4 linked regions of the Homo sapiens genome follow. The protein of the gene in region 2 purifies or fractionates together with the protein of the main gene of each other region. This does not show direct contact. Each region holds a gene or a part of one and is shown on either strand. Other genes may lie near its edges.

Evidence for each region. The genes of interacting proteins can lie anywhere in the genome.
Region 1: the proteins of TXLNB (region 2) and CALCOCO1 purify together in Homo sapiens (affinity purification with mass spectrometry; 2 studies listed by BioGRID and IntAct, with this or other methods). This does not show direct contact.
Region 3: the proteins of TXLNB (region 2) and INSR purify together in Homo sapiens (co-immunoprecipitation; one large-scale study listed by IntAct). This does not show direct contact.
Region 4: the proteins of TXLNB (region 2) and SPDL1 purify together in Homo sapiens (affinity purification with mass spectrometry; 2 studies listed by BioGRID and IntAct, with this or other methods). This does not show direct contact.

The regions. Positions count from the first base shown.
Region 1 is NC_000012.12:53,713,953-53,717,452, forward strand, and holds part of CALCOCO1 (calcium-binding and coiled-coil domain-containing protein 1), read right to left. Parts: intron 2,464-3,500; coding exon 2,308-2,463; intron 2,096-2,307; coding exon 1,841-2,095; intron 1,374-1,840; coding exon 1,248-1,373; intron 742-1,247; coding exon 646-741; intron 290-645; coding exon 181-289; intron 1-180. UniProt on the Homo sapiens protein: Functions as a coactivator for aryl hydrocarbon and nuclear receptors (NR). Recruited to promoters through its contact with the N-terminal basic helix-loop-helix-Per-Arnt-Sim (PAS) domain of transcription factors or coactivators, such as NCOA2.
Region 2 is NC_000006.12:139,243,499-139,246,998, forward strand, and holds part of TXLNB (beta-taxilin), read right to left. Parts: intron 1,193-3,500; coding exon 1,097-1,192; intron 1-1,096. UniProt on the Homo sapiens protein: Promotes motor nerve regeneration. May be involved in intracellular vesicle traffic.
Region 3 is NC_000019.10:7,111,765-7,114,089, forward strand, and holds the end of INSR (insulin receptor isoform Long preproprotein), read right to left. Parts: 3' UTR 501-2,325; downstream 1-500. UniProt on the Homo sapiens protein: Receptor tyrosine kinase which mediates the pleiotropic actions of insulin.
Region 4 is NC_000005.10:169,590,273-169,593,772, reverse strand, and holds part of SPDL1 (protein Spindly), read right to left. Parts: exon of another isoform or gene 2,944-3,500; intron 2,726-2,943; coding exon 2,549-2,725; intron 420-2,548; coding exon 225-419; intron 1-224. UniProt on the Homo sapiens protein: Required for the localization of dynein and dynactin to the mitotic kintochore.

The DNA of each region.
Region 1 (3,500 bases), on a different chromosome or scaffold from region 2:
GGACCAGCTGTCTCCTCTGGATGAGGGGTATCATTAGACTAAACAGGGGCCAGGGTCTGGGAAAGAAAAGGCAAAACACATAGAAGGCAAAGGCAGCTCCCAGCAAGGTTACATGGAGCCTTCCTCAACAGCGGGAGGTAGAGTGGGGAAGAGGTGTTACAAGATTGGGGCTACACGGACTCAGCCCCACAGCGGCCTCCTCATCCTCTGTGGTGGCATCCTCATTCCACTTCTCATCTGCCACCTTCTCCAGGCGGGCCTCTAGCTTTCTCATGTACTCTAGCAATTCCTGGAATTGGGAAGGAAAAAGGCAGGTGCTAGAGAATGGGAAGGTGCCAACCTTGCTAGCCTGCAGAAGCTGCACCCAAGAAGAACTCTTAGCTCCTCAGCATTAGATGCCTTCAGCAAAGATTGGGGCAACTTCAGGCAGACACTCCCCCCAGCACCCCTGCTTCACCACTTACATCCCTCCCTTCTCCCAGAGATCATCCGCTGTCCTGCCAAATCAGCTAATAAGAGAAGCCAGGGTACGGGCCCTCTTGGAGAGAACAGTTTCTAAGCCAAGAGATGACAGGAATTTACAAAGTTTCTAGCCCTCAAGTCCTCACCTGTGGCATCCACGGGGCCTGGGTTATGGGTGCTCACCTGTTTCTCCTCCTGTAACTGCTCCTTTTCCTTCTGGAGCACACGCAGGGCTGACCGCAGCTCTGTCAGCTCCCGCTTACTTTCTGACAACTGTACCTGAGGGAAGAGGGCCCAATGGAATCTGGAGCCTAGAATGTACCTCCAAGAACCTGGACTCTGGGACCAGGACCAACAATCTAGAACCAGGTCTCCCCATGCCTCTGCTTCTTCCCTGCTCTGACACACACACACAGGAATTCCCAACACTTCCTCCATGAGTACTTTGTCTTGGGCCACAGATACTCAGTTTTCTAAGTCTTAGTCTCTGCCTCTCGAGTGGGGACCTGCATGACTTCCTCTAGGCTGGGGTGCAGAGGCCTTGGTCATACCAAGGGGCCACTCTATAATTCTCCTAAGTCACCTCTACTGGGCCCAGATGTGTGCCCTGAGAGCAGAAAAAAATGCACATTTCAAACCAATGAGGGCTTGCGTGTGCAAGTGAAATGCCACCCAACATGGTAGTGGACACCTAGCACTTCTGAGCCCATACCCAAGACAGAGAGAAGGGGTATGGATGCCTCAGGAGGCCATAGGACAGGACCCTTGGTGGCTGGATGCCTCACCAGGCTAGAATCCTTCTCCCGGGCCAGCTCAGTCTTGAACACTTGGTTTTGGGTCCTCTCCTCCTGAACTGCCTTCTCCAATCGAAGTATCTCTGCACTCAGCTTCAGGATCTTGTCCTTCTCTGCCTGAGAGATAGCCAAGAAGGAAAATGGGAGGGTGGAGGGGGAAGAAAAAGGAACGCCACTGTCAACAGCACCATCCCTTACTGTGTCCTTTCCTTTATTTAAAGCATCATTTTTAGAGCACTTTCCCCTTTTTGCCTTCATTTCCTATACCCTCTGAATGAAGGACAGGACATGACGGCAGGTGCTGCTTGATCAGGAATGGGCATTATGGCAGGGCCTGGGGTCTAGGACAGAAAATGTTTCTGTTCCAAGGAAGGTACTCTGGTGATCAGGATTGGGATACCCCGGTTAGGGATGGGTCATGCCTAGAAAGTAAAGTGTACCTCCCTCAAAGCCCCTCTCCACCCAAGTCCTCTAAGGTTCTCAACCCCTCTTCTCTCCTCCCAGAGGGTCTGACCACATGTAGGAGTCCCCACAGAGGTGGGGGCAGTGGCCATCAGATTGCCAGGTACCCCCCATCCCTCTACCTCCACACTCTGCAGCAGCCCTGCCCGCTCCTTGCTCCATTGGCATTTTTCTTCCTTCAAGTGCAAACCGAGCTCAGCCAGCCTGCCGTTAACTTCAGCCACTTCCAGGCGGCTGCGGTGTAGTTCGGCTATGGTGCGGTCCCTGGCTGCTGCTGCACTGGCCAACTCCTCCCCAAGAAGGGTGGCTTTCTGCTGGCTTGAGGCTGCAAGCTCCTGGGCCCCTCGAAGCTGCTCCTTCAAGGGCTCCAGCTCGGCCTCAGGAGAAAGGAGGAGATGGAGATCAGAGTTCCTAGTGAATCATTCATCAGCCAGGGAGGTAAACGCTCCCTCCACTCCACTGCATTAGGACTCGGGGTTGTGTTGTTTAGTCTTTAGCCATGTCTCTCCCCTTCTCTTTAGACACGCAGGCTTCTCTACAACTTGCCCTTGGAATTTCCCGTTTCCTGTTGCCAAGGGGCCTCACTCACCACCCGCTGCTGGGCCTGGCCTAGGGTGTCCTTCATCTGGGCCACCTTGTCTTTCAGTCGCTGAGCCTGAGCACTCTGCTCCTCTTGCCAGCTCTTCGCCTCCTTCAGGTCCAAATTTAAGTGATGGTTCTCCTGTTGTGCCACTTGGAGCTCAGCCTGAGGGAAGTGGAAAGCAGGTAAGGAAAGGGGTATGTGTGTTGGGGTGGCTCGGGAGGTGAACCATTGTGATGAGAGAGGTCAAGGTTCCACTTCTCAGATTTAACACACACTCAAGCCTTCAGCTATTGCCAGCCCTTCTTGGGTTCTCAGCTCAAATAACTCAATCCTGCATATCCAGTCTCCAGCTCCCAAATTGAGGTATCCAGCATCGCAGCCTTGGGTCTTCTGTGTAGGCATTCCATGTACCATTTCTGCTACTCTATTCTTTCTCTTAAATCAAAACTCAGTCTTCATGCCCTACAGGCCCCTTAAACTCAACAGTCTACCTCTCACCCCATCCCAGTCTTTCCTACTCTTATTTCCGTCCAGGGTACCAACTAGCTCCCACGTTACTCAGGATGGAGTAACCTGGTGCCCTTGGTGCCATGCTTGGCTCTGTCCTCTCCCTAGCGGCCCACAGAAAAACCTATTGCTTCTCCATCCTGGTCACAGCCATTTTCCCTTCTCTATTACCACCACAACCACGTTATCTCAGACTCTGGTCATTTCTTGCTTGGACTACTGAATAACTTCATAAATAGTTCATTCTCCACAAGGGAATCAGATTATTCTTCTTTAGGTACAGTTCTGATTCTTTAAATACAGTTATTTTCTTTTTTAGAGATAGGGTCTGGCTCTGTCGCCAAGACTGGAGTGAAGTAGCATGGTCACAGCTCACTGCAGCCTCCAACTCCTGGGCTTAAGCAATTGTCTCAACTCAGCCTCCCCAGTAGCTGGGATTATAGGTGTGTGCCACCACGCCTGCCTAATTTTTGTATTTTTTTGTAGAGATGAGACAGGGTCTCACTATGTTGCCCAGGCTTGTCTTGAACTCCTGAGCTCGAGGGATCCTCCTGCCTTCACCTCCCAAAATGTTGGGATTACAGGCGTGGGCCACTACACCTGGCCATAAGTACAGTACACGTCACCCCTGCTTGAAAAATCATCAAAGCCTTTCACGCTTGTGGAATAAAAATGAAGCTCAAGATCCACCA
Region 2 (3,500 bases):
TTTTTTTTTTTTGGCATTGTGTACTAGACTGGTAGATTCTTTAATCACCATACCCTGTTCATTGGGAAAGAAAGATGGTCAGGCTTCCTTCTGCTTTGGTCCATAGCCTCTCAAATCTTATGGATGAATTTTCTGCTTCTGAGACTTAGAAGGTAGAAGCAAGACTTGCGGCAAGATAAATGAGATGGATTGGGACTTGGGTTTCAGCAATGCCTTCCTTATCTGTTCTATGAATAAACTGCTATGTGCTAATCCCAGCAGCCATTTGATTTATGTTGATGAGTAATATCTCTTTGGAATTGGTTGCAATTTGAGAAGAATTGTTAGAGCAGTAATTATAACCATAGAAATTCACCATATACTAATTCACGATGCTGGCTGCTCAAACGGTTCAGTTTTTTCCTCTAGAAATGTCTATTTGTGCATGAAAATGTTCCTAATTATCTCACTCCTTCACCTCACCTCTGAGCTACTCTGTCCCTTTGAGACCTTTTTTCCCCCACTCGTTATACATGGAGAGACCTTCACCTGTAAGCCCTACCTCTCAGGTCAGGGGCCATGTATCTTTGCCTTTGGACTCTCAAAACCTACTTGGAGCCTGGCATGAGATCAGTGTTTAAATGTCTATTGGAGGAATTAAAAAGATATCTCCATATCTGTTTATATTAGAAAATAGCACATGCACTGGACTCTTGGGCTGGTGTCTTCTCGCAGTATGTTCAAATCAACTAATTAATTTATTCAGCACCTGTTATGTGTCAGACACTGGGGAAATTTAAAGTAAAATAAGACACTCATCCTACCTTTAAGGAATTCACAGCCCTTAAAGGGGACAGCTGCCCTGGGTACAGCTATTGAATCAACAGGTAAGCATGTGACTTAGGGTCACAAAACTCTTTCTGAGTCTGGACCTGATTCTAAATGACCTTTGCTCTTATTATACTTATTACAATTTAAAATGTCACATCCTGCCACCCCAAATTCAACTCTTTTTCACACATAACCATTTGTACTATTACCAGGTTATAATTGTATCGTAAGTTTGAATGTTTTGACTAGACAGAGGGGATTAAAGCTAAGGGAGAAACTTCCTCACCTCTTCAATCATGTCCAACAGAGCTTTGTTACAGTTCTCAAATCGGGCTTTCCATGTGGCTGTGTCCTTTTCCAGCTTCTTCATTTTCTTAGTTGTCTACAGAAATTAGAGTGAGTGTGTGTTAATCTTGAAAAGTTAATATATCAAGGAAGCTATTAGCTCCATATGTGAGACCAGGAGAAGCCCTTTTGTTACCAGATGCTGAAGCAAACAAATGTTCAATGTCAAGAATGAAGATTGTAGCAGAGTCATAATTTATTTCTGAGCCGTCTAGGGCAGTGGCAAGCAAACTTATTTGCACCTGAGCCAATTCAGGAAATGGGAAATGACTTAGGGGCACATGGTTTTGTCACTGCTTTTTCTTTCATTTAAAAGAAGAATATCTTTATGGAGTTCCATGAACAAGCCTGTAATTTAGGATATTTACTGTATTGAATAGAAGACTATCACAGTGGGAAAGCTGGCATGGCCTTTTTAGCCATTAAAATGTTGATAATATCTGGGCACATCTGAGAAGTTGCTGCACAAAAGCAGTCTCTGTATTTTCTGGGTCTTTACATTTATAGAGTGAGGTAGAGTTCACAAAATGTGATTACATGCATTATTTGTTTCATCCTTGAAACAGTCCCACAAGGAAGGTTCTATTTTCACCCCCATTTTATAAATGGGGAAACCGAAGTTCGGAGAGGTAGAGTAATATTTAGGTGAATTAACAGAACAGTGGGGCTGCCATTCTTTTATTTCATTTAATGAAGCATATAGAATGTCTGGTGGTCACCAGGCCCTGGGCTGGGTACGAGGAAGTAAGAAGTGAATAAAATGCAGCCTGTGTTTTTCGAACCTGAGGCTACTCACATTCTTGTTTGTAGGATCTCTTCTTTGCTTAGATGAAGTGGAGAACGAGGCATGTACTCAGGTGCAGTTTTCCTGGATGAAACATAGCTGGGCACTCGCTGCTTGGTGCCAAGCTGCCTGAAGCTGGGTACCCACGGAGGCCAGAGGCTGGGCCCAAGACTGTCAGCCCCTGGCTCTACAGACAAGCTAGGTTTTTAATTTTGATCATATTTTAAATTAGTTAGTAGTTTGTAAACTTCTTTGTTTTCTTCTTTTTTGTTGTTGTTTGTTTTTCACTCTTTTGCCCAGGCTGGAGTGCAATGGCGTGATCTCGGCTCACTGCAAACTCTGCCTCCCGAGTTCAAGCGATTCTCCTGCCTCAGCCTCCTGAGTAGCTGGGATTACAGGCGCCTGCCACCATTCCTGGCTAATTTTTTTGTATTTCAGTAGAAACAGTGTTTCACCATGTTGGCCAGGCGGTCTTGAGCTCCTGACCTCAAGTGATCCACCCGCCTCAGCCTCCCAAAATGCTGGGATTGCAGGCATGAGCCACTGCGCCCAGCCAGTTGTTTGTAAACTTTAAGGTCATCAATCTTTTTAAGAATGTGGTGAAAGCTATGGGACCACACTTCACAAAAATGTGCATATGTGCATCATTTTTTTTTATGGTAATTTCTAGAGAGTTCTCAGGTCAACTACTAACGTCCATAAATGGACCCAAGATTAAGAACTCCTGATTTAATATTTATTCCACTCTTAAAACTACATAATTTTGAAAAACATGTTTTCCTGTTCTAATTTATTCCAATCTTAAAATGCTAGAATTTCAAAAAAAAATTAAGCAAATGGATAGTTCCATTCTGAAGTGGGAGAACTGTAACATTTAACAAGTGCCAATCTTCTTCAGGTTGCTCATTGTAAAATTTGTCATAATATTTTAAAAATATATTTTAAGAGGATGTTTTCTACACCTCAAAACCATTAATGCCAATCCCTGTTCGGAAACACAGTTCTGATGGCTGATTTTGTATTGGGAAGACACTGAACAAGCTTTAAACATTACATTAAATTATAATACTGGCACCTTATATTTGAAAAATACATGTAAAAAGTTAAAATCCCTTCCAAAATGTATTAATTTAACTTCACAATCTTGTGAGTTAGGCAGGGAAAGTAGTATCTGCATAGATTAAAAAAAATTAGAGGCCAGGCATGGTGGCTCATGCCTGTAATCCCAGCACTTTGAGAGGCCGTGGTGGGTGGATCACATGAGGTCAGGAGTTCGAGACCAGCCTGACCAACACGGTGAAACCCCGTCTTTACTAAAAATATAAAATTAACCGGACATGGTGGTGCATGCCTGTAATCCCAGCTACTCGGGAGGCTGAGGCAGGAGAATTGCTTGAACCCGGAAGGCAGAGGTTGCAGTGAGCCAAGATCGCACCATTGCACTCCAGCCTGGGCAACAAGAGCGAAATTCCATCTCAAAAAAAAAAAAAAAATTAGATTCAGGAAGTTAAGTGAATTGATGAGTAAGACCACTTGATGAGCAAGAACACACCAGAATTGA
Region 3 (2,325 bases), on a different chromosome or scaffold from region 2:
CAAGAAAGACTATTCAAAAGGCTTTCAATCCCATGGTCTAACCCATGGTCACTCACCTGTCCACCCAACCTGGGACAGGTCTCCACTCCCAGGATGACATTGAAAATACTTAACATATGAGTTTCCCGCATGTCAGAATAGAGCAAGATCTTGAAGGTTCATTGGTATTCTCGGAGTGAACCCTTTAGTGGTTGGACCATGGGGAGGTCTGGGAGCCCTTGGGGAAGCGCTTACTTACCAAATGGTATGGAAATAGTGCAATATTTAAACCACCAGTTTGGCCATACAAGTATGTCCCTACGAGTCATCAACTCTGCTGGTAGCAACTATTTAACCTCCCTTTTCATGTGTGGAAGAATCTAGGTGTTTTTCTCCTCTAAAAAAAGGCACCTACATATTCCAAGAGGTTTTCCTTAACACAGCCCAACTCATAGCCACATCCCCCGACCACACGACAGGTCCTTACCGGGACACCACACAAAAACAAGCGTATTCTCAGATAATTTAATCAGAATTTTAATATAAACAGGTCATTATCCCATATTTTACATGCAGAACGATTTCAATATTCCAAAAAAAAAGGCGTCTTCTGTACATGGTGCTACTTGGCTCTTGTAGGAAAACATTGAAAAAATAATAATTGAGCTGTTGGGGGGTTTTGTGTTTCTGAGTTGTTTTCTGCAAAAGCTGCAGCACATTTGATCCTGCGTTGCCAACGCACAGGGCCGAGGCCACCCAGGCACACAAAGGGACGAGGAGAAGCAACTTTCAGGCAAAGTGTAAAGACTAAACAAGCTGTTCCTGAATATGTGCATGGGTGCACACTTATTTTGAGGCTCTTCCTTCCTTCTCCAATGGGACCAAGAGCCCCAGATTTGTGATCTGGTTTTTAACAAGGATTTTCAGTGGCCCGCACCCAGATAGAAATTTGGCTGGTGGCTGGTTCTGGACCTTGACTAGTATCAGAAGGTAAAAGTAAGCTCAAAAAGCCATTGTGTCCCCTCCCCTCACTCCCATTTCTCGGGGACCCTTAAGGAAATATTCACCTTCCATTGCACTCCCTGAAAGTCCACCATGTTCTTTTGTATGTTCTAGGAAAAAAAAAAGTGCTGACCTGTTCTTTTCATTCCCAACCTCACCTCGCATATAAATTAATATTCTGAAGAACATGCTGGAAGATTTTCTGAAGTGACACCCCTCTCTGTGTACCATGTATATAAAATCGGCATTCCCTGTTCCCCATCCTCAACAAAACCATTGTTTCTGAAGAGCCTAAGGTGTCAAGGACTCACCAGGTGACATTCAAAGGACATTTAACCCTAAACTTCCACCCACTGTGAAGGAGAGAAATGATTAGCACTGGGACTACAGCACATCCATTTACCGGATGACCAGCGCAAGTCATATGCTGATGACGCTCCTGCTCTTTCACACGTGTTACAGCAGACTACAAATAAACACCTCCCAATCCAATAAGCACATTTCTTGGTGGACTACCTGCCCTGCTAGGATACAGTGAAAGATCTGTCTGTCAGTTGGTAACATAGTCCCCAGGGTCACAGGATGACCTATGCAGACCCTTGTGTCAGTTCCCACAGCTTCTCTCAATCATCCTCAGCCTATATCCAGACAAGCAGCAGTGCTTCTCTTTCTCACTGCTTCCAATGATGAAACAGCACCTAGGACAGCTCCTAAAACCTGAACATTTTCTGATGCGTATTTGACATCACTGATGCAGAGAGAAAGTGATGTGCTTGGTATTCTCCTCCTGGAAGAAGGAACTCCTGTGTGGCTTTCACTACATTAATGAAAAGGGTTTTAATCATAGTGAGACATCTTTAAGAACAAGCAACAAAAAGTGTTATCCTAAGCTGGTTTTGTTGCTTTTTGTTGTTGTTGTTGCAACTTAACACTACAAACTCCCAGGACAACCGTGTCTTTCTAGGACCAAAGTTTTATTGTTACAAAGTCAACATTTCCTAATGTCAAAGGAGGTTTGCAACCCAATAGCTGTTTGCTCTTTTCACTGTGGCAGTAGAGTCAAATAAATGAAACTGGTGAATCCCATTTGCAAGGGGCAGGCCCAGCACACCCTACCTTTCTCCAGGGCAGGTGGAGAAAGGTGAGTCTGCAAGGGCAGTGCCTAAAAGTACAAGAGCAGCAAGATTTGGGCCCCACTGGTCCTGCCTAGACTCTCACATGGGTTATCAAAGCTGCACAAGGTCCAATAATATCAGCTTGAGGTCAGTCAAACCCCAACACAGAGGTCCAAGGTGTTGTTGCAAAAAAAAAAAAAAAAAAAAAAAAAGCGTTCAGCACATTAAT
Region 4 (3,500 bases), on a different chromosome or scaffold from region 2:
TAATCTAAGAGAAAGGCTGCCTTACATAATCATATAGTCTAAAGCTATATTATGAATGAAGTCATCCACCTAAAAAAAACCCATTTTTTAATTAGTTAGATGCAAGTTAGGTCAAAAAATGTTTCAGCCTTCAAACTAGCTCTTAAGAATTATTACCAAAACATGTAAAAATATGCCAGAAAAAAAAAGAGAAAACCCTGAGAAACACATGCCATAAAAATTACCTTCATACTCTCCATTTCTGTCAGCTCAATTTGAAGAGCCAGCATCTCTGAAGACATGCTTTCCTGCACACGTTCAGACATTACGCGCAGTTCCTCTGATTTACAAGAGAGGAGTTCCTTCTGATGATCTACTTGGTGCTTCAGCTGCTTTTCACTAAGCCTGGCTTCATCTAATTCCACTTTCAGTTTTTCTATCTAAAGCCAAAAAAAAAAAAGTCATAAATTGAAAGTTATTTTCTTTCTAAAAACAATCACTGATTGAACTGATTGAACCAAACTTACTGAATGATGATACTATTGGAGTTTCCTATTTGCCCAAGGTTAGGCATCTTTTAACAGCTAGTGACACACCTTGTTTAATAAACATAGAAATAATCCATGAGTAATCGGGGTGGGTCTGGATGCCTCAGAAGCAATCTGGAGGCACTATGATGCGGACCACTTGGCTACTGTGTGAAGAATGACTGGCATGAAGAGAAACAATGGAAGCAAGCAACCTGGTCAGAAGGCTACAGCAGTAGTCCAGGAAAGAGATGATGAAGGTCTGGATTGGAGTGGCAGTAGCGTCATAGATGTTTTGTAGGTCAAGTTCTTAGAACTTGATGAATTAAATGTGAAAAATAAGAGAAGAAAAGGTATTAAAAAAATCCAAATTTTGGCATAAGTGATTTGAGAAAATCAGTAAAACAAAATATTTCACTAATGTACTCTTTGCTCCACCAAAAAAAAAAAAAAAAAAAAAAGCCATCTCTATAATTAGCCTTACCTCAGTCCTGAATACTCCCTTTATTACTCTTTTTTGTTTAGGTGATGAAAACTATTGCAAAAATAAAAATAACAACCAGAGGGGGAAGAAAGCACATCATTATCAGTCATTAGGGCCTCAAATCCGACTAGTTTCAGACAAGCTGGATGATATTATCTGTCAGAGTGGTATGCAAGATGATTATATATTACATGAAGGTATATTTAGATAGCTATGTTTGTTTTAGTGTATACTGGGAAAAAATAAGCAAGCTTAAATATGTAATTTTGGCCAGGCGCAGTGGCTCAGGCCTGTAATCCCAGCACTTTGCGAGGCTGAAGTGGGCGGATCACGAGGTCAGGAGTTAGAGACCAGCCTGACCAACATGGTGAAACCCTGTCTCTATTAAAATACAAAAATTAGCTGGGCGTGGTGGCGCACACCTGTAATCCCAGCCACTTAGGAGCCTGAGGCAGGAGAATCGTTTGAACCCGGGAGGCAGAGGTTGCAGGTGAGCCGAGATCATGCCACTGCACTCCAGCCTGGGCGACAGTGTGAGACTCTGCCTCAAAAAAAAAAAAAAAAAAAAGGAAAAAAAAATACTTTCATTGATGTTTCTTAAAATCAGTAAACATTAAAAGAGAGTCAATGAGAAATTAAGTAATAGTATAGGTGGTATACAGAAAAAGAAAAATCTTAGAGGCTGCTATACAAGAAGCTGAAAATTGGGTAACAGACTTCTGAGAAAGGAGGACAAAAGTCAGGCAAGTTTTGGTAGACAGTGTCTGGAAAAGTCAGAGTATAGACTATACACAAAGCAGATCCATGATAAAAAGTTCTGGATTCCTCAGAAGCAACCTGAAAGCACTGGCTAGCTGGGAAAAGGGAAAACCACTGACCAATCATTTATCTTGCGTTTATGTTTGAAATGGAGCCAGTGTAACATGCTGTTAGACTATGTAGTGATTCAGTAACACAGCCTTTGGAGTCAGACAGCCTCAGTTCAAACCTAGATGGAGAATTTCTAGTTCTTGAATTGTGTCCAATTTACTCAGTCTGTCTAAACACTGGCTCTTTCATCTGGTATATGGAAATGATAATGGTACCTTTCCACAATATTATTGTAAGAACTGGAGCACATGTATTAGTTTATCCTCAGTAAACAAACTATAAAGTGTCATTTGTAATGCACATTAACTAGTAAGAAACTACTGGTCTGTTTTACAGAATTACAAAGCATACCACTGACTGCAGGGAAGGCTAGGAGACGAGGCTTTCTGCAAGGGGCTGCTGTACCCACTATCAGCAAGGAGGCCATGCTAGTCACTAAACTAAACCTTCACAAATATCCAGCAACCAAAATTAAATAATTGTATTTAATTAATAGGATATAATTTATACAAGTCCCTTAGACAAACTCTTGTATCTCAGTGTTCCCACCCCCAATATTAAGATAATGAAGACTTAGATCTTGGCTATTTTGCAAAGCTGACACTTAAGAAAATCTTTATCATCTAAAGTTTACAGATGGCTGCATAAATATGGAATATTTTGTGCTGAAATACGCAGATATCCCAACCTTAGTTTTTAGTTCATTCACTTCCTGTCCATGGCTTCTGCTTAGTTGTTCTTCCAATTTCTCCAGGTGCATTTTTTGTTGTTGTTTAATAGCTTCACATTCGCAGCTCAAACTTTCTAACATTCGACTCTTGAGTTCAACTTCTCTTTGAAGGGTATATTTTTCTTGTTCATAACTCTGAAAACAGATTCAATTACAATTCAATTACATAAAAATAGCCTAAAGCCATTACATACAATCAGTTTTCAACTTCAATTGTTTCATTCTTATTTCAAGCATTTGCTGCTTTCCAAATAACGAAGACATGTTAAACCTGGAATAACTTTGTAGTTAATCAGTCTTAATAAACCCCTGAGGTGTATTTCGAAACTATGTTAAACCCATGCAAGGGATACCTTACTGCTTCTGTGCCTTGTCAAGGAAGTAAAATGTGCTCCATGGTATGTCAACACGTCAAGTCAAGTAATCTCTGCTAACAACAAAAAAAGATTTAACAGCACTTAAGCTTTCCTCATGAGAATTATTAGTTTGATAATGAGATGCTCTACTTGTAGCTCTGAACACAATGTAGTAGTAATAATAGTTGAAAAAAAAGAAATACTGAATTAGCCTTTACTTTCAGAATGTAGTCATCTGAGAAATGTCACAAAAGGTCTATCAGAATGAATGCAGAGCTGAGACAAAAGGAGTAATTAAAAGGGCTTTTGCTTACTCACAGGGAAGTTTAGACATTAAAAATGTTACAAGTACGAACTCCTTCAAGAGGCTTTAAAAAATGATAAAATATTCCCCTCAAAAACCATTTTATTTTAAAGGAAGACAAAGAGTATTAACTGTTAAACACTGAAATTTGACAAGTTATGACTCAAAATGATTAAGTATAACAGTTTTATTTTCTATTAGTGATATTTGTAATCTTTACTTTGCCTTTATGACTTTGCACTCAGTTCTT